Regions from separate parts of the Homo sapiens genome. Here regions 1, 2 and 3 are each linked to region 4. Evidence: fine-mapped expression QTL. A gene starts in region 4. Each other region holds a variant in brackets. All regions are shown on one strand. Distances are between the middles of the regions.

What was found. PIP is the estimated chance that this variant, and not a neighbour inherited with it, causes the effect. A credible set is the group of variants that fine-mapping cannot tell apart.
Region 1: its variant is the best candidate, but not a certain one, in a credible set for the expression of B3GAT1 in sun-exposed skin (GTEx, PIP 0.56).
Region 2: its variant is the best candidate, but not a certain one, in a credible set for the expression of B3GAT1 in whole blood (TOPMed, PIP 0.82).
Region 3: its variant is the best candidate, but not a certain one, in a credible set for the expression of B3GAT1 in minor salivary gland (GTEx, PIP 0.58).

What each region holds. Positions count from the first base shown.
Region 1 is chr11:134,376,794-134,381,987 of GRCh38, reverse strand. It overlaps B3GAT1 (beta-1,3-glucuronyltransferase 1), which reads left to right. Exons shown (of 6, transcript NM_054025.3): 5 at 1-64; 6 at 1,241-3,480. The coding sequence ends at 50. It overlaps LOC124902798 (a long non-coding RNA gene), which reads right to left and starts at 5,192. Exons shown (of 2, transcript XR_007062961.1): 1 at 4,734-5,192; 2 at 3,647-3,924. RefSeq lists an enhancer at 4,628-5,194. The variant A/G (reference allele first, on the strand shown) is at 2,561.
Region 2 is chr11:134,387,840-134,393,033 of GRCh38, reverse strand. B3GAT1 (beta-1,3-glucuronyltransferase 1) reads left to right here. Exons shown (of 6, transcript NM_054025.3): 2 at 5,094-5,194. Among named protein-coding and RNA genes, the nearest start is that of B3GAT1, 22 kb to the left of the region's middle. The variant G/T (reference allele first, on the strand shown) is at 2,859.
Region 3 is chr11:134,494,501-134,499,694 of GRCh38, reverse strand. The region is part of intron 5 of B3GAT1-DT (B3GAT1 divergent transcript); the gene reads right to left. Among named protein-coding and RNA genes, the nearest start is that of B3GAT1-DT, 61 kb to the right of the region's middle. The variant C/T (reference allele first, on the strand shown) is at 2,259.
Region 4 is chr11:134,409,156-134,414,349 of GRCh38, reverse strand. B3GAT1 (beta-1,3-glucuronyltransferase 1) reads left to right here and starts at 2,108. Exons shown (of 6, transcript NM_054025.3): 1 at 2,108-2,543. RefSeq lists an enhancer at 2,960-3,519.

The DNA of each region.
Region 1 (5,194 bases), 32 kb after region 4:
TGGTGAATGAGGGCAAGAAGGGCTTCACTGACCCCTCGGTGGAGATCTGAGCCTCAGGATGCAGGTATGGGCATGACGAGGGTGGGCCACACACTGGGCAGGGCGGCACCAGGTTGGGCCGAATCAACTGTCTCATTCTTTTCCTCTTGGGCTTTCACTGTGGAGGACAGGGCAGATGTGGGCAGGAGTGGAGGGCGTCGTCACCACAGTCCCCTTCCCACTGGGCCACCTGAAAGTATCCAGGCATTAACTTTCACCCACGCAGCTGGGTCCTTCTGCCACCAGACTCTTCAGAGGGTGTCACCTTCCAAACATCTTGCTGATTTTTCTGCTGGCAGTGACGCCTGCACCCCACAAGGCACTGCCATTCAGACTCTCGCTGGCCAGCGTCTGTCCCCCCAAGTCTGCCTCTTCCCCTGTGGATTCCTTCACCACGTGGCCATGGTGAGGACTCACGGACTCGCTGCTCCACAGCAATGAGCCCACGGCTGTCATAGTGAGAGGTAGCGCAGAGTGACAGCACGGACCCAGAGCCCACCTCAGCTCCCAGGACCCCTGCTCTTCACTGTTTGACCTGACTTGACTTTTCTGGGCCTCAGTTTCTTCATCTGTGAAGTAGGTTGCTGAGAGCACCTAGAACAGTTCATGGCACTTAAATCTCATCAGTGTGGCTATTTTTATTCAAGTCTTTAAAGCCCTCTCTGGAAGTAGGCCACAGGATCCACCTACACTTCAGAAGCAAAGAAATGATGTTGAGAGAAGCTAAATGAATGTTCCAAGGTGACACACTGGCACGAGTGAATTGTGCTGGGTGGTTGGCAAAGCCAGGCATTTTCAGGGGCTTTTCTGTGATCTTATCCTGTCTCTTAAAAGCAGCTGGTACTCCTGACTCCCTACTCTAGGTTATGCCAAACAGAGGTTGAGGCCTGAGACAGACATTTGTCCTCTTGCCCTGGAGCTAAGCAATAGCTTCTGTATTGTGTTTGCCCGCAGAGGACCACAGGGTGTCACTCAGTCACCTTGGCCAGCGCCACTTAGAATGCATCTGTACCGAGCCTCACTTCTGCCTCCTGCCCTCACTGCCCTCACTGGAAGCACCTTCCCCACCTGCCCCTCAGAAAGGCCCCCACAGGACCTGGGGGCCTGGGCTTTGCAGAGGTCCTGGTGGCCCTGCCTGGCCATTCCCTCCCCGGCCCCACCCTCAGCCGACACCTCACTCATTCCTCCTCTCCCCTCACAGGAGCCTCCTCCTCAGACCCTGTTCTTGGCCTTCCATCCTCTCCCCACGGCTGATGGTCCCTCCAAGGCCGACTCCTAAGGAATCACCATCACCCTCCTTTCTATTCTGGGGGCTTCTGAGAGAGCCCAGCCTGATGCCAGAACAAAGGACAGAGAATTTAAGCACAGAAATCCCAGACCTGTTGTTCTCTCCATCCAGCGTGACCAGGGCCCGAGAGACCTGATGGCCAGGGTGGGGTGTCCAGCACCAGCCAAGCTGGTGCTCCAGCGCACCTCCCCAGAGCTCCCCGCACTGACGGGGCTGCAGGAGCAGGTGCAGTGGGCGCCCACACTGGCCCTGCAGTGATGCAGGGCGGGAGGGAGATAAGAAGACCCCGCAGTCAAGTGGAGCATGGCCCTCCCTGGCTCCCTGTCCCTGGGCTCAGCACGACCACACAGGACACCCAGCCAGGGAATTCTGAAGACCAGAGAGCAGCCCACGGGCATCACGAGCGCTCTGCTCCTCTCCTGGGCCCCTGCTCTTCCCGAGAGCTGCCCCCAAATCAGACATACCTCTGTGGCTCTCCTCTGGTTCACGTTTACAGAGCATAAGGCTGTCTTGGATCCCAACAGGCACCCAGCCCTGCATGGGGGGAGCCTGGGCCTAATAGGCACCCCCTGTACCTCAGGCTGTGGCGGGAGCAGAGTCCCCCCCTCCGGCCCCTCTTCCTTTACCCCTTCTCCTCCAGCAGTGGCAAAGGGGTAGGCTCTAGAGCCAGCACAGGTCACTGCCTGACCTGGACTAAGAACCCCACGGCCCCACTGTCCACACACTGCCTCCCCACCGCCCACCTCGGCTGCTAGGCCCCTCGCCTGGACTGGACTGGGGAGGGAAAGCGCCTTTTCCTGCAGCTCTTCAGAGCCACAGACCTCAGGGTGGAGTGAGCCCATGGTGGGCAGTGGGCAAGGCGGTGGGTGGTGGGCAAGGTGGGACCTCCTGCAGCCTGGAAAGAGGAGGGAGGCCAAGGCCATTCCCTAACTCCCTCCTGCCCCTGGTCTGAGGAGGAGGGACTCTGGAGTAGCAGAGGGGCTGGGAAAGAGGGGGCAGGGGCTGCTGGGACACTGAGCAGGAGGGAGGCCTGAGCACACTGCTTTGGAAATTATTCTAAACACAAAAAAGGGAAAGAAAATGTTATTTCTCCCTAAGTCAGGAGCATGCAGAGCTAGCCCACCTCATGTCCAGCTGTCCACTTTCCATCCTGGAGAAAGAACAGTGTGCCTCAAACTCCTGCCCTCCCCAGGCCTCTGGGGCCCACTGGAAAGGGCTCTGACCCCCTGGCCC[A/G]GCCGGGCTCTCTAGTGGTGATCCGGCTCATTCTCCTGCAAGTTGGAAGCACAATTTTCCCCCCAAGTGGAGGAAAAGGAAAGGGCCCCAGCCTACTGAAGAGGTGTTTATTTTTTAACTAACAGCCTCCCACCCCATTAAGACTCACCAGGAGAGGTCTGAGGGCCATTCAGAACCCACTCCTGAGTGGGTGGGTGGGTGGGACTCAGTCCAGAGACCTAACATTCAGAATATAGCATTGGTTGCCTATTTTGAGATGGATTTAATCTCCCACAGTATTCATGAGACCATCTGATGGAATCAGATCCCTGAGCCACCTTGCAGGACGTTTTCCCCAACCTCTTACACCCTGGATGTCACTTTGGAAACCAAGCCCTTGGAAGCAAGTGGGGTGGCATGGGAGAGAAGGGAGGAGGTGGGCACAGGTGGTGAGCTTATGTGTGGGCACTCTACTGCCTCACAGAAGCCAGCCAAGTGCCAAGGTCAGCTTGGCTGGTCTGAGGCCACCTTCTTAGCCAAAAACCTAGGGTTCATTTTCAGGACTTTGATAATGAACAACAAAATGGGGACTTCTTTGGGCAGATGCTAGGTCAGTTGTTTTCACCTAATATCCTCTTTTAGCTGCATGTATATTTATTTATAATTATAACCCTGGTGGACTGCAGCCTTCATCTTTATTGGGAATGAGTTTGTTATAAATCAGAAATGGGTCCATGATGACCACTGTTTTCCAAACCCAGTCTGTTCCCTGCTCCCTCGCTGGCAAGCCCCACCACACAGGAGTGAGGCCAGGGGCTAGGAGTTCTAAGAACAGAGGCTGGGGTGAGGGTGGCACCCAGGCAGCTGCATCTGGTCTGTTTTAATTTAACTGTATTTAATTTGCTTTCAAAATTAAAAGTCAAATACAGTTTTTAACAGTCCTAATCCTCTTCAGCCCTGCCTTATTTTGTTCTCATTTATTAATTTAGCTACCCAACAAGTATGTATCAGGTGCCTGTTATGAACAGGCATCATTCTAGGAGCCGACACACAGCAGTGAGAAAACAAGGCTCTCATTTTCAAAGAACTGACCCACTGACGAGAGGAGACAGGCAATAACGAATGCATATTATTTCAGATGCAATCTGTTGTATGGAGGATGAGGGTGAGTCGGGGAGACAGAGGTAGCAGTGGAGAGGGTCAGTGCTCTGTAGGGTGACCACAGAGGCCTCCGTGATAAGTGACCCTTGAGCGAAGCAGCAACACCCTGACATGCAGCTCCCCGGGCCCAAGAAGAACGAACTCTCCACCAGGCGGAACAAGCGTTGCTCAGCCTGCTTACAGATCAGCAGGAAGGCCATCGGGCTCAACTGACGGGGCGGGGGCTGCTGGGGGCAACAGCAGTGAGGGATGTGGTGGGCGTGGGAGAAGGGAGTCCCCAGGCACCGGGTGAAACCAGAAGGCAATAGGGGGTCCAGTACGGAGGACTAACATAATCTATCCATCTCTAAGAAGAACTGCCCTGCTCCTCCACGGAGGATAAATGGAGAGGGCAAGGGCAGGTGGAGACGTGGCTCCTGGAATCATCCAGGCCAAGATGCAGTGGGCTGAGTGGGGGCATGGGGTTGGGGCAGAGAGAAGCAGTCAAATTTTGGCCAAGTTTAGGAGGCAGAGCCAGGAGGATCTGCTGCTGGATTGGATGTGGGAGATAAAGAGAGGGGTCCAAAATAGCCCGAGACACAGAACAGCACTGCCATTTCCAGATACAGGGCTGCGTGCAGGAGGGGTAATGTGGGGAAATGGAGCTCTGTGTCAGGTGCCTGTTAGACACATGCAGAAGAAAATGCGCCCCCACACACCTGGAGCTCAGGTGCAGCCCAGCATCGGCGGGCGCGGGTGTCCAACCTGTTTACAAACCACAGGTGCACGGGTGAGACCCTATGCAGTGAGTGTGGACAGAGGAAAGAAACAGCCCAAGGAGTGGGCCAGAGACCCCCAGCATTCAGAGGCTGGATATGAAGAGGGATTCTCCAAAGAGACCTAGATGAGGCCATACCGTGTGGAAGATAATGGAAACATCTTTAGTCAACGCTGGAGAATAAGCTCTGCCAAGAGGTACTTTGATAGAGAAGCTGAGCAATTAACTGGCAGAAAATAAGGGTGAGAATAAGAAGCTGGTGTAGGAAGACCTCACCTTAGGAAACCACAGTGTGTCCTGCTCAGGTCTGCGTGGAAGTGTGATCCAAGGGGCTTCTCCACCTTACAGGAGGATTTGCAGGAAGGTTCCCTTCCATTCCATCACTTTCTGACGGAACCAGCTCATACACAGCTCTGCAGAAGCACACACTCAGGTAAAGCGGGGCAGAAGACCCTGCAGGTGGCTCAGGCCACACCCAAGTAGCCCGAGTCTCATCCACATCTTAGCCCCATGCTTGTCGTTCCGAGGCAGTTCCAGAAGAACTGGTGAGTTTGGGCAAAACCAGGGACTCTGCCCCATGTTGTTCCCAAGCCACTGTCCACAAGCTTTCCTTTAATAAGCTCCATTTAATAAGCCCTTGACCCGGCTCAGCTGCTGGGCTGCACACCACGAATGTCCCCTGCACTCCCCCTGGGCAGCCACACACGGGCAGCAAGCCTGCTGGCCTCAGTGAGCTC
Region 2 (5,194 bases), 21 kb after region 4:
CTGTGTCGTCTCTTCCGCTCTGGACTGAGCAAAGCTTCCCCACCCTGGATTGCCCACAGAATCCAACACAGTGCTTTGCCTGCTACAGATGCTCAATTAATATTTGTTGAGTGAAATTAAATAAGCTCCTCTCCTCAGGGCCTGAGGCATTGCTGAGGCCTTCGTTTGAACACCTGCAGGCTCAGAAGAAAACCTTTCCATGCTTTTACAATTGGCCAGCCTTGAACCACCCCTGCACATGCTCCAGCCTCACATGTTCTGCCCCAGCCTGGGTCAATCAGAGCCTTCCCATCTGAGTCCCAGACACCCCCTAGTCCTTATTCACAGCGCACAGCACCCTAAAACCCATAGACAAATTCCTCTCTGGAGGTGCCATGGCTCATACCTGTAATCTCAGCACTTTGGGAAGCCAAAGCAGGAGGATCTGTTGAGCCCAGTAGGTTGAGACCAGCTGGACAGCATAGTGACACCCTGTCTCTACAAAAAAGAATTTTAAATTAGCTGGACATGGTGGCAGGTACCTGTGGTCCCAGCTACTTGGGAGGCTAAGGCAGGAGGATCACTTGAGTTCCGGAACTCAAGCCTGCAGAGAGCTGTGATCATGGCACTGTACTCCAGCCTGGGTGACAGAGTGAGACCCTGTCTCTCAAAACAAAACCAAATGCCACAAATTCCTGCAGAGAGGTGTTCCCAGTATGGCCGATCTCCATAGGCATACTGGCCCTTAAGTCAGGACTCAGTTCCACGGGCCCTTAAGTCAGGACTCAGTTCCATGGGTGCTGGCCCTTAAGTCAGGACTCAGTTCCACGGGTGCTGGCCCTTAAGTCAGGACTCAGTTCCACGGAGGCTGTTTTGTTGGCGCTCTTGCCTCGCCTCTGGCCCTAGGTGCCCACTGAGCTACACTTTCCTCACATAGGACATCCCTTCATCTTCGCAGAGCCCTATGGTAACCTCCAGTTGCTAAAATGGCAGGATCGTTGAAACTTCCAGCTCAACCTCCCTATTGTAAAGACGAGGTCAAGGAGGGCAATCAGCATGACCCAGGTCCCCGTGGAGCACCTGCCGGACACGTCCAGGCCGCCACCCTCCCACTCCCATGTGCTGCCCCAGCTTCTGCTCCCCATCTGGGAACCACCCTCCACTCTCCCACAGGGAAGTGCTTGCTTCCCTCTGAGGCTCTGAGGGCACCCGGGGAGGGCAGGGCACAGCCTTTTGTGTCTCTACTTGCCGAGACGCCTGAGATCTGAGGTTGGTCACAGATATGGTGCAAGTGTCAGGATGGGAGTTGTGACCACGGCAGGCCTGGGCCCTACACTCACACACACTGCCCACGCCGCGTCCTGCCTCTCCACGAAGTCCCCCTTGTGCCTCCACCCATCTCCTCCTCCAGCACCCCATTCTTCCCCGTGCTTGCCTCCATCTCCTGGGCTCTCCTGGGTGTGGCCAAGCCACTCCTGCACCTTTGTGCTGATTCTTCTGCCTGACCCAAGGTCCTAGAAGCCATTCTGGGGTCCTTGTTAGAGACAGCCTGCGACCACAGACAAACACCGCCCTCCTCCAAGCCCCAGGCAGAAGCAGCAGGCTGCGAGAGGGGACCAGTGCTGGCCAACCTTGCAGCCCCGTCTCAGACTGGGGCCCAGAGCTGGGGGCAGGTGCAGCCCACCCGCTGCCTGGCCCCAAGCCCCTGCCCAGCCCAGGCATCACATCCCACGACCTGCCCCCTGCCGGCCAGCTGGCGTTCTCCAGGCTGGGGGCTCTCTGTGTTCTGCTTGATAACTGCCTGGTAATTAGCTCCACGATTTTGCTACTATGCTTATAATAGCCTCCATTAAAGTTATGGGGTTTTCAAGCCATAATGGCTTCCAGAGTAATTAATGCACAACTGGGTTTATTGCTGAGTTTATTTTTAGAGGTTTTCTCCCTCTCTCCCCCTCCCTTTTCTCTCATAGATGTTTTGACCAAAAAGACTGGATGGGAGCAGAAGGCACCCCACGGCACCCTTGCCCACAGGCCCCATCCTCCCCTCTCTTCCCTTCCCGCCCCTCCTTCCTGCTTCAGCCTCCAAGCAGGTGCTAGGGCCCTGCAGTGGGGGCAGCCATTGCAGAGGAGGGTGGCTGTGGTCCAGGCCAGAGGAAGCATTTGGCCTGTGTGTGCCCCTTACCCACCCTGCGCCTGGCCCAGGTTCGAGAGGCTTGGAGGCCTGGGACCTCTTATCCTATGCCCCCGATGACAGCATAGAGCCAGATGGCCTGGACTCAATTCCAGCTCCACCATTTCCTAATGGTTGACCTCAGGCAAGTTACTCCCCTTCTCTGGCCTCGATGAACCCACAGGGACCACAGCCATGCCTACTGCACAGGGCTGCTGTGACGTTGCAGGAGCAGGTGCATGTGAAGAGCTGAGCCTCATCTTCGGACATCTCTCATGCTATAGGGAAGTTTGTATAAACAACAGTGCAAGCGGGGGCTGAGAGGCTGCCCCAAAGGAAAGGCAGTGGCCCACAGGGACTGAGCTGGCAGGACACTCATCTTCTCTCCTTGGCTTTCTCCATCCTGGTATTAGAACCTGCACCAACACCAGGAGCACTTGAGAAAGCTCCTTCGAGAGTCTCTGAGAACACAGAAGAAATCTTCCTGGACATTTCTGAAGCCCCAGCCAGGCCCAGCCTCCCCATCCTTCATCAGATGTGGCCTAAGATCCAAACGTGTCTTGGCCAAAGAACCAAAACGTGTCTTGACACGCAGCCCCATGCAGCCCCAGCAGTGGCCTGGGTGTGGAGGGACAGGCTAAATCTGGGGGATGTGGCATGAAGTCACTTGCATCTCAGACCACAAGACCCAGCAGGCATCCCGTGTGGG[G/T]TTCTAGGCTCTGTCCCTCACTGGGCCAGCAAAGAGGAGTTTACGGGCGGACACAGACACACACGGCCTAGAATGTCCACTAGGGGAACTACGTGCCTGTGACGTTGAACCCCAGTGGGTCTTCCACTCCCCGGGGAATGGGTGGGGGAGACTCTCTGGATGGAGTGGGCCTCTGATGGCGGGGTGTGGGCAGGGGATGCCGGCCGTCCTGGGAAACCACAGTGCTCCTTAATGGAGGGGATGCCGGCCGTCCCGGGAAACCACAGTGCTCCTTAATGGAAGACAAATCCTGGTCTTCCACAGGCGTCAGAACTATTTGGAGAGAGGACCCGGTGAGGAGAGGAAAACACGCTATTTTGGAAACTCAGGGGCTAAAAACCCTCCTCGGCCATAGCACTCGACTCTGCCTGAAATGGTGAGCACACGTGAGCTGGGGCAGGAGCAGGCAGCATGGCCCCCAGGTGAGGTACTGTCCGTATCCAACACTGGGCACTGGGACGGGTGGGCACAGTGAGGCTGGCTGGGCTGCCCGAGGCTGCCTGCCCTCCCCACCACCCCCACGGGTCCCTGCTGCATCATGCATGGTGCTCAGCACAGAAGTGAAAAGGGAGGAGAAGAGGATGTGACAGTTTCCAAGGCGGTCAGGAGGTCTCTTCGCCCAGTGTCCTTGCCATGTGAGAGAACGGTTCCCAGAGATGCTACCAGTGGACCCTCTGCAGGACTGAGGAATCCCAGTGGCTCATTCTCCTCACTTGGGCCCCCTGCTGTTCTCATTTTGGAGGACTGTCTCCCCTCAATGTGGCAGCCCCTGCGGGGACCCCTCTTCTTGCTGCTGCCCAGCCCAGCACCTGGTGCTCTGTCCTGCACAGAGCGGTGCTCCACAAGGATGTCCTATTGACACGGAAGAGGAAGGCACTCTCGTACTTCCCCCCAGGGACCATCCCAGAAACATCTCTTCTTTGTCCTCAAAAGACTGTCACCAAAATGCAAATTGAAACCACAGTGAGATACTATCTCACACCAGTCAGAATGGCTATTACTAAAAAGCCAAAAAATATTAGATGCTGATGAGGCTGCAGAGAAAAGGCAACACGTATACTCTGTTGGTGGGAATGTAAATTAGTTCAGCCACTATGGAAAGCAATTTGGAGATCTCTCAAGAACTTAAAACAGAGCTGCCATTCTAGCCAGCAGTCCCATTACTGGGTATGTATCCAAAGGAAAATAAAGTGTTTCACAAAAAAAACACCTGCACCTGTATGTTCATCGCAGCACTATTCCCAATAGCAAAGGCATGGAATCAATCTAGGTGCCCATCAGTGGTGAACTGGGTAAAGAAAACATGGTGCATATACAGCAAGGAATACTACACAGCCATAAAAAAGGACAAAATCATGGCCTTTGCAGCAGCCTGGATGCAGCTGGAGGCCATTATCCTGAGCAAATTGACACAGGAACAGAAAACCAAACACGATGCATTCTCACTTATGAGTGAGAGCTAAACACTGGGTACTCATGACTGTAAACATGAGAAGAATACACACTGAGGACTCTCAAAGGAAGAACGGCTGAAAAACGCCCTGTTGGGTACTATGCTCATACCTGGGCAGCGGGATTCATCATACTCCAGATCTCAGCATCACATGCAATATGACCCATAACAAACCTGCACATGTGCCCCCAAATCTAAAATGTTGAAATTATTTTTAATATAATAATTCGTGGTCCATATATGGTTAAAAAAAAGAAAAAAGAGAGAGAGAAAATAAAACCTCTCACCCCTTTATCCAGGCTTTGATAAGTAGCTGGCATTTTAGGGCTGCACGGGAGTTACCCTGTTTAATTCTGAGAATGACCTTATGAGGTAGGGATCCACAGTGCCCCATTTTATAGATGGGAAAACTGTGGCATGGAGAACGGAAATGACTTGGCAAAGGTCTTACAGCCTGTGGGTGGCACAGTTGGGATTTAAACCTGGTGTCTCTGCAGTCTGTGCTTCTGACCCCTGCACCCTACTGACTTTCATAAATGGAGCAGAGCCATGGCCCTGTGCCTGTGGGAAGGACAGAGCCCATTCCACTCTAACAGGCAGACAAAAGAGGTCCTCAGGTGATGGACAGTTGAGGCTCCATTGTGGAACCCCCGATGCTGTGTGTCCCAGAGCAGGGCCCAGCCTTGCTGGCATCCATTCCTATACCTGGGTCTCTGGCTATCCGCTTCTGCTCTCTCTTGCAGGTGTCCACCCCCCAGGGTTCCTGACCCCTGCCCCTGGACAGCGACCCCTTCTCAGACTCCAGTTGGGCCGGACTCTCCAAACCTGCTTCCGCAATGGGTGG
Region 3 (5,194 bases), 85 kb before region 4:
ATGAGAAAACCAAGGCGACAGCCTGAGATCATATCACTGATCGGGGCAGAGTGAGGGTGATGGCCAGACTCTGAGTGGTCCCACCAGGCCACTCAACGGCTCTTTCAGGGACCTGAGAGTCCCGTGCATGGCTCGGTCTCCTGGGGCCCATCAACAGAGTCTCCAGGACATCCTCAGACATTGCTCCCTGCTCTCTCTTTCCAGATCCTCAGATTCAGTATGTCGTGCACATCCAGTCTTCTTTTCTGCAGCCCTCTTATAGAGACGAGGTGTGTGCAAGAACCAGCATGGGTGTGCACAGGCACACACGGGAGCACCAGCAGACACAAGTTTCCTCCCAGGGACACAGATGCCCCTCAGAAGCGTCCATTCACTAATACATGAAAACTCACAGGAGCGTGTCTCACATTTGACAGTTTACATGTAACCTTTAATTGCTCAATTCATATCCGCCTCCCCTGTTGGACTAAACAGTCCATAAGAGCAAAAAAAGATCGAGTTTGCAGTCCCGGAGTACCCTACAGGGCCTGGCCCATAGCAGACCTTCAATAACAGGTCTTCGATAAACCTGGGTTGAGTCGAGTACATACACAGACACATGAGCAGACACACAGGAGTGTGCATGTGAGCACGGGTGTCTTGTGGGACACGCACCTGCATGCACACGTGGGCATGTTCACCCACTCTCACACGTGCACAGCCACGCTGCACATGGGAGGCATGGAGGCACACACAACACTCTCGGGTACCGGTGGCACCTTCCTCTTCACTGGTGGGAGGGGGAGGGGAAGCTCCTGTAGAGCCCCCAGGCCACCATGGGCTGCTCCCAAAGCGTGTTCCGGCAGGGCCTACTGTTTTTCTCCATCTGCAGGCTGGGGTGAGCTACAGAGATCATCTGTAGGGGAGCTGAGCCCCACTGGGAACTAACAGCAGCGACCCAGATGGCAGTCAGTGGCGGCAACGACAAAATTGTGTCCAACTGAAGGCCTGGCCTCAACCAGCACCAGGAGCCCTACCCCATGGGGTTGTGGAACTCTCCAGAGGTCCCCACACCCCCTGGAATGAAGTCCACAGTGGCATTAAACTGTCTGGGCTCAGAGCCCAGTCCAGGAGCCAGAGACAGAGCAAAGCACCATGGGCTGACACTGCCTTCCCCCAAGATGCCCTGCTGCTTGGGAGGTGAGCCGAGAGGCAGCTTCAGTGCCAGAGCCAGGCACCCAGCCAGCCCACTCCGGCTTCAGCGAGAACATGGCTTCCTCAGGCTCTTCACTGCAGAGGGAGGGCTCTGCACACAACAAGGCTCTGGTTGGGACCGTGATACAGATCTGAGTGCTGAGGCTTCTGAGGCTGTCGCTCCTGCCCTAGGAGCTGGCACTGGGAGCCCCCATTCTGCCTAGGACTGTGAGCCCCTCCCCAGGTAACAGAGCTCCCTCCCAGGTAAATGCAGAGGATGGACCCCTGGGAAAATGAAGGGAAGGAGAAAGAGCACCACAGAGGAAAGCTGTCCACCACCCAAAGTACAGAGAACAAAAGCAAAGCACCATTCCAGTTAATACATGCCCCCACTACACACTGAGCACCAAGGAGCTAGGCCCGTGCCCAGGGCTGGAGCGAGGACACTCCTGCCTTCATGCCTGCACTCCAGGAGCTCACAGTTTCTTCCTCTGAAGCCCGTCCTCCACCCAGGCACCAAGGAACCCTTTTTTTGGTCTCTAAAATCATAGTTTGTTACCCTCCTTCAAGCCTCCCAGTGGCTTCCCAATAAGGTGCAAACTCATTTCCTGGTGGCCCAGCCTCCAAGGCCTGGCTCTTGCCCTCCTCTCTCACCTCTCTCTTGTCTCCTTTCTGCCCCTGAGCAGGTTCACTTCCTCCTGGGCCTCGGCCCATCCCTCTGGCACGTCCCTCTCCAGGAGCCCTGCCCTGGAGTCCTGTGTAAACAGCCAGGCACGCTCTGCCACTCAGCTATGGTTTCCTTCTTCATTCTTGTTTGTTTACTAAATCAGCTGCCAAAACAAAACAATGGGGGACTTCAATCACACGGCAGGGTGCCCCTCTGAGACGAAGCTTCCAGAAGAACAATCAGGCAGCAACATTTGCTGTTCTGAAATATTTGCTGTTCTGCAGACTCCACTGGTGATACCCAGGCAAACAGGGTCTGGAGTGGACCTCCAGCAAACTCCAACAGACCTGCAGCTGAGGGTCCTGACTGCTAGAAGGAAAACTAACAAACAGAAAGGACATCCATACCAAAACCCCAT[C/T]GGTATGTCACCATCATCAAAGACCAAAGGTTGATAAAACCACAAAGATGGGGAGAAACCAAAGCAGAAAAGCTGAAAATTCTAAAAATCAGAGCTCCTCTCCCCCTCCAAAGAAATGCAGCTCCTCACCAGCAACAGAACAAAGATAGACAGAGAATGACTTTGACGAGTTGAGAGAAGAAGGCTTCAGATGACCAAACTTCTCCAAGCTAAAGGAGGAAGTTTGAACCCATGGCAAAGAAGTTAAAAACCTTGAAAAAACATTAGACGAATGGCTAACTAGAATAACCAGAGTAGAGAAGACCTTAAATGACCTGATGGAGCTGAAAACCATGGCACGAGAACTACGTGATGAATGCACAAGCTTCAGTAGCCGATTCGATCAACCAGAAGGAAGGGTATCAGTGATTGAAGATCAAATGAATGAAATGAAGCGAGAAGAGAAGTTTAGAGAAAAAACAGAAAAAGAAATGAACAAAGCCTCCAAGAAATATAGGACTATGTGAAAAGACTAAATCTACGTCTGATTGGTGTACCTGAAAGTGACAGAGAGAAGGAAACCAAGTTGGAAAACACTCTGCAGGATATTATCCAGGAGAACTTCCCCAACCTACCAAGGCAGGCCAACATTCAAATTCAGGAAATACAGAGAACATCACAAAGATACTCCTCAAGAAGAGCAACTCCAAGACACACAATTGTCAGATACACCAAAGTTGAAATAAAGGAAAAAATGTTAAGGGCAGCCAGAGAGAAAGGTCGGGTGTACCCACAAAGGGAAGCCCATCAAACTAACAGCTGATCTCTCGGCAGAAACTCTACAAGCCAGAAGAGAGTGGGGGTCAATATTCAACATCCTTAAAGAAAGAATTTTCAACCCAGAATTTCATATCCAGCCAAACTAAGCTTCATAAGTGAAGGAGAAATAAAATCCTTTACAGACAAGCAAATGCTGAGAGATTTTGTCACCATCAGGCCTGCCTACAAGAGCTCCTGAAGGAAGCACTAAACATGGAAAGGAAAAATCAGTACCAGCCACTGCATAAACATGCCAAATTGTAAAGACCATTGATGCTAGGAAGAAACTGCATAAACTAACGAGCAAAATAACCATCTAACATCATAATGACAGGATCAAATTCACACATAACAATATTAACCTTAAATGTAAATGGGTTAAATGCTCCAATTAAAAGACACAGACTGGCAAATTGGATAAAGAGTCAAGACCCATCAGTGTGTTGTATTCAGGAGACCCATATCATGTGCGGAGACACACATAGGCTCAAAATAAAAGGGATGGAGGAAGATCTTCCAAGCAAATGGAAAACAAAAAAAAGGCAGGGGTTGCAATCCTAGTCTCTGATAAAGCAGACTTTAAACCAACAAAGATCAAAAGAGACAAAGAAGGCCATTACATAATGGTAAAAGGATCAATTCAACAAGAAGAGCTAACTATCCTAAATATATATGCACCCGATACAGGAGCACCCAGATTCATAAAGCAAGTTCTTAGAGACCTACAAAGAGACTTAGACTCCCACACAATAATAATGGGAGACTTTAACACCCCACTGTCAACATTAGACAGATCAATGAGACAGAAAGTTAACAAGGATATCCAGGAATTGAACTCAGCTCTGCACCAAGTGGACCTAATAGACATCTACAGAACTTTCCACCCCAAATCAACAGAATATACATTCTTCTCAGCACCACATTGCACTTATTCCAAAATTGACCACATAGTTGGAAGTAAAGCACTCCTCAGCAAATATAAAAGAACAGAAATTATAACAAACTGTCTCTCAGACCACAATGCAATCAAACTGGAACTCAGGATTAAGAAACTCACTCAAAACCGCTCAACTACATGGAAACTGAAAAACCTGCTCCTGAATGACTACTGGGTACATAACAAAATGAAGGAAGAAATAAAGAAGTTCTTTGAAACCAATGAGAACAAAGACACAACATAACATACCAGAATCTCTAGGACACATTTAAAGCAATGTGTAGAAGGAAATTTATAGCACTAAATGCCCACAAGAGAATGCAGGAAAGATCTAAAATTGACATCCTAACATCACAATTAAAAGAACTAGAGAAGCAAGAGCAAACACATTCAAAAGCTAGCAGAAGGCAAGAAATAACTAAGATCAGAGTAGAACTGAAGGAGATAGAGACACAAAAAACCCTTCAAAAAATCAATGAATCCAGGAGCTGTTTTTTTTGAAAAGATTAACAAAATTGATAGACCACTAGCAAGACTAATAGAGAAGAAAAGAGAGAAGAATCAAATAGATGCAATAAAAAATAATACAGGGGATATCACCTCCTATCCCACAGAGATACAAACTACCATCAGAGACACCTCTATGCAAATAAACTAGAAAATCTAAAAGAAATGGATAAATTCCTGGATACATACACCCTCCCAAGACTAAAGCAGGAAGAAATTGAATCCCTGAATAGACCAATAACAGTCTCTAAAATTGAGGCAATAATTAAGAGCCTACCAACCAAAAAAAGTCCAAGACCAGATGGATTCACAGCTGAATTCTACCAGAAGTACAAGGAGGAACTGGTACCATTCCTTCTGAAACTATTCCAATCAATAGAAAAAGAGGAAATCCTCCCTAACTCATTTTATGAGGCCAGCATATCCTGATACCAAAGCCTGGCAGAGACACAACAAAAAAAGAGAATTTTAGACCAATATCCCTGATAAACATTGATCCAAAAATCCTCGATAAAATATTGGAAAGCTGAATCCAGCAGCACATCAAAAAGCTTATCCACCATGATCAAGTGGGCTTCATCCCTGGAATGCAAGGCTGGTTCAACATATGCAAATCCATAAACGTAATCCAGCATATAAACAGAATCAAAGGCAAAAACCACATGATTATCTCAATAGACACAGAAAAGGCCTT
Region 4 (5,194 bases):
TAAAAATTCTGTAAACAGAGCCTGGAACTAAGATGCAAGACAGGTCCCTTGAAAGCGGCTTTATTATCACAATTGTTCCTGCCAGAATGCTGAGGTAAAGCCGAGAACCCCTGCAGACAGCATCTCCGAGCCACAGCCCAGCAGGACAAGTCGGACCACAGCCCACTTAGTCCAACCCTCTGTTTCATTACTGAAACCAGCCCTGAGGGGAAGTCTTTTGCTAGTGCCTTCAGAATCGGCCTGAAACCCAGGCCTCCTCGTCGCCATGTCCCTGAGCTCTCTTGAGATCACCCCTCATGGGTGTGTTTCCCTGTTGGTAAAATGAGGGTCTGGAACGAGACAGTCTTCACGGTCATTTCTGTCCTCCCATTTGGTGATTGTGTGACTGCGGCTGGCTGGCTTAGCAGAGGAGGGAGGCAATGTGCCCTCCTGGACGGCCTGGCCCCTCCTTGGTGCTCTCTGGTACCCCCGCCCATCCTGCTTCTGCACCTGCCCTTCCCCTCCCTTCAGCTGGTGTGGAGTCTAAGGAGAAGCAGAGTATGGAGACTAGGAAAATACCAGAGAACACCGACTTAGGAAAGGTCTCTTAGCAGAGTCTAAAAGAGAGGGTTGTAGTAGGGGCAGAAGAAGGCGGAGCAAGGCTGGCTGGGATTCCACTCATTAAGAGAAGGGGGAAATGCTCCTGTACCGCAGCAGGAGGTACTGAGGTTAGATTCAGAGGAAGTTTCTTGCCGGCAAAGGGGGCTGTTAAGCACAACAATGAAAGAGCGCACGACAAGGAGGAGCAGTTATCCCTAGAGATAGTCACTAAGGACACTTTCACATGTCTGTGGCATGATACGGACGGTGAGGTGCCTTCCTCCCCTCAAAATCTTGACCAAAGGGGCTGATTCTGGAGTCTCTGCCCCCTCCCCACCTGCACATCCTCAGTGGGAAGAGCAGGGCCCGGCTTGGTCCTAACAGGGCAGGAAAGCTGATGGAAAAGAGGCCCGTGGTCCTCAGCCCCAGCCCATAGCACGGGGGCACAGCTCTGGTTAAGCAGTGCCTAGCAGTGGGGCTGGAACTGGTTTCCCGGGAAGGAGGGAGACCCTAGAGAAAGTACCGACAGTCCCTGGTCCCGCCGCGAACCCCGCCATGGGAGGTGGCCTTCTCCTGGGGCTGTGAAGAGGACACAGCGGGTGTGGCCCGAATACAGGTGTCCAAGAGCACCGGGAGATGCCAACCTCTAAAACGAGTGCAAGGATGGCTTCAAAGTCTCCGACAAGCTGAAGGAGTATCTGGAATATACAGCTCCACAGAGGCACCCTACCAGTGCACCCACATACGTCCAAGTGCGCGCCCACTCACTGGCCTCCGTCCCCCGCCGACCAACACACCGCGGCAGAGGCCCGGGAAACTCCTGGAGATCCCGCTGCCCCCGGCCTCCCCGCGCCCGTCCGCCCACGCAGGCCTCCCGGGCCTCTCTCCGGAACGCCGGGTGCACCGGCCCGGAAGGGGAGGCTGGGGTGAGGCTGACGCGCGGCGGCTCGAGGTGCCCTTCCACGGGGCAGCAGACCCCGTACCCCGGCACGGCACCGTCCGCCCCCACCGGCCACCTCCCATCCGGGGTGCCTGGAGCCAAGGAAGGAGCCGCATCCCCCACCGGCTTCCCAGCTCGGCCTCTCGGTCCCAGAGCGCCGCCCCCCGCCCTCCTGCAGCAGCCCGGCCGGAAACAATCACCCTTTGAGAGAGGCTGCCAAGCTGGGCGCCAGGAGCAGCCAGGATGGAGGCGGGGTGGAATGGGGGTGCAGGCGGGGGCCGAGCTTTAACTCTCGAGAGCCGAGATCTGGGGGTGCGCTCGGCCCCTGCCCGCCACCCCTGCTCCGCCGCCTGAAGCGGGAGCCGCCTCCGCGGGGGACGGTGCCGGGGGAGGGTGGGGGGCGGTGGGGAGGTGATACCAATCCCGGGGGGGGGTCCCCTCGCCGGCCTCCCTCCTCGCGCCCCCGCCTAGGCTGGCGAGGTTGGTACCGACCATTAGCAGCTCGGGTCCCGCCGGCGCTGGCGCGGGCTCGGGGCGGGGGCGGGGCGGGGGCGGAGAGCGGGTGGGGGCGGGGCGGGAGGCGCCGGCAGAGCCGCGGCGGCACCGGCGCATCCGCCGCCACCTCGGGGACTCTGCGCCGGCCCGGTCGGCTCGGCTCCGGCCGCGCGCCCCCCTCGCCCCTCTCGCCCCCGCGCCCGCTCCCCGCTCCCCCTCCCCGCTCCCCCTCCCCGCCCCCCGCCCCCCGCCTCCCTGCCCGCGCCCTCCCTCCCGCGCGCTCCCAGCCTTCGGCCGCCGCCTCGCTGAGCCCAGAACGAGCCGGGCCGGGGCGGCGGGGCCGGGCGGGGCGGGCGGGCGCGCGGACCCCGCGGCTATGAAGTGGCCCCCGGGGGCCCGGAGCCCGACAGTCCCCGGGGAGGGAGCCGCACGCGGCCCAGGGCAGCGGTCTAGGGGCGCCGGGGCCGGGGCGTAGGGGCCGTTGCCCGCGATGGACCGCACCGGAGACGCTCCGGACTCGTCGCCGCAGGTCAGTGCTCCCCGCGCCCCCGCGGGCGCCCCGCCGCGCACAGAGCCCCTTTCTGCGTCCCCATCGGTGCCCACGCCATGTCCTCCCGGGCGCGCGCTGGGGTGTGTGTGTGTGTGTGTGTGTGTGTGTGTGTGTGCGCTGCGCGCGCTGGGGGCAGCTGGAAAGGGGGCCGAGAACCGAGCTCGGGCTGGGAGGCGCTGCTGCCGAGGGGCTGCGAAACAAAACCCGGCACAGCCTGCCCTCGTCGACCGGGATTAGGGGAAGAGCTGGTTCTCAGCAGCTTCTAACAATCGGCCCGGGCTCTCAGTCGTCAGTTCCCGGCCCCCTCAGCAGGTGGTTTCTGGTGGCCGGATGAGGAGTCAGGGGTCAGTCGTCCCCCACCTCCCCACCCCTGCTGCCCAACAGCGCTCTCTGGATCGCTCTCTGGCTCCTGGGCACTGCCAAGTTAACTCTCTTGAGGGGGCCCGAGCTCTGCGGGGCGCGCTGAGGGACCCAGGGGTAGCAAGGGTGGCAAAGGGCCCTTGGGACCTTCGGTGTAGCAAGGAGGAAGGAGGCGCGACCAGTTCACCACCCTCCCATCTGCACCTGGGCTCAGGTCTGAGGTCCCAATCCCTCCAAAGTCAGAGCACACAACTTCCAGAAAAAGGAGGCTGAGAGTTGAGGCAGGAAATAGAGAAGGAAGCCACCAGGTCCGACAGTGCCAGGGTAAGGAGGTGACAGCCCCGTACCAAGCAGCTAAGGTCAAGAACCACCCCCACATGCACACACATGGGAGCCTTGGCCAACTTCCCTGTCCCCTTCCTCCCCCAGCCAGGCCTAGCTGCATGGATTCTTGTAGAAGCTGGAGCTGAAGGACTCTGGACATACAGGAAGGGGACCTTTACTGACAGTTGCTAGCCCAGTGCATGGGCACCTGCATAGGTGGGGTGCCCAATGGGGCCTAGAGCTTGGGCTGTGTAGCACGCACTGTTGAAAATGTTGGGGTACGGATGTCGTAGGGCCTAGCACTGTGCAATGCCTGGATGTGTTTGTGTGGAAATGGGAGGCACATCACTCCCTAAGTTACTAGGGCTGTGGGGCATGTGGCTGCACAGGACTGTTGTTCTAGGGTTTTCTAAGATTTGTCTTCTGTGCTTATGTCGCCCTACCTCTGCTGGTAGCCACTGCAGAGACTGAGACATTTCCTCCCAGAGTCTGCTCAGTTGGTGACCATTAATGGCCTTACTGGACCAAACATCAAGCCTTCCCTTTCTTCCCATGGGGTGAAGACCCTTTCCCAGGGTCTTCAGACAGACTTCTCACTCTGCCCAGTCCATGCCCAGCACTGCCAAAGGTTCCAGAGCTTAGAGACATTTTCCCTCTTCCCCTTTTCATGGAAGCAGAAATACTTGCTAAGGTTAATGGGACTGGGAGAGTTAATGCATCTGTGCCCCATTCAGCACTGGAGCCAGGAGCTCGCTGTTCCTGTTTCTGTGCCTGACCCCAGGATGCTTGGGGATCACTCCAGGTCCAGGTGAGCTGGAAGCTTGCAGGCGCTGTGTTGAATATGTGTGTGTAGGTTTCTGGTTGGGCAGTTACTCACTGTTCCACCAGAAGCAGGGGGCAGGTAAATCACTGAGGAGATAAGCTCCAGCAACAGGATTGGAGCCCGTGGCGGAGACCAAGGAGCTTCACAGGAGGATGCCCTGGGGCAAGCCCAGTTCCTCAGCTTCGGCTTCTGGGGAGACCTGAAGGTTCTCTTAGTGGTTTCTCGGGGATAAGGGGACCAAGTCAGATATACTTTTCCTAGGTGTGGAGCACAGGGTGATGAGGCCGGCCAGGAGCTGGGAGTGTGAGATGGGGAAGAGGATGCACCAACCGAAAGGCTGAGCGGACAGGAGCATGGTGCTCCATTGTTTCTGGAAGAGAGGGATGAGTGTTCCTCTCTGATGAGAATGGAGAGGAGGAGAGGAACGGGCTCAGGAGGAGGAGGAATCCGAGAGAGAGCCTGACTGAGGCAGAGAAAGAGGCAGTGAGACAAGAGACAAAGGCACGGAGGCGCACTGGCGGACAGCAGAGGGAGGCACACAGGCAGAAGTCAGGGCCTCCCTGACTGAGTGGTGAGTTGGGGCAGGCTGGGGGCCTCCCCCTGTTCCCCTACATCGACCTCAGCAATTGTCCACCCCTGCAGGAGGCCCCTCACTAGAGCAGTTGGACATTCTACTGAGGAAGGTGCTTTCCTGTGGCTCTCAGGAATGTGAGGGTCTTTTAGACAGAAGCCCAAAGGCAGAGGGAGGCCAGGCTATGAGGTCAAGCACATCAAGAGCTTGCAGGGACTTTCAGGGACACCCTTCACCCCTGAGCATCTCACAATGCTGAGGGCTCCTCTCCATCTTCTGGCCCTGCCCCAGCCCTCCTGGTCCTGGAATGCAGGGCAGTGGGGAAGGATGTGGGGTCTGGGGAAACCTGGCACTCAGGAGAAGAAGAGAAGTCATGCACCCCCTCCCCAGGCCCCCAGGCAAAAAGACCTTTGGGGACCCTACTGAAGACTAGCCAGGGGACATGGAAGAAGTGCAGTGGGGACAGGCCCTTGGCCAGGCTGTCTGAGGTCCAGTCTCATCTCCATCTGTGGCTAGCCGAGTAGACTTTGAAAAAAACAGAGCTCTCTAAGC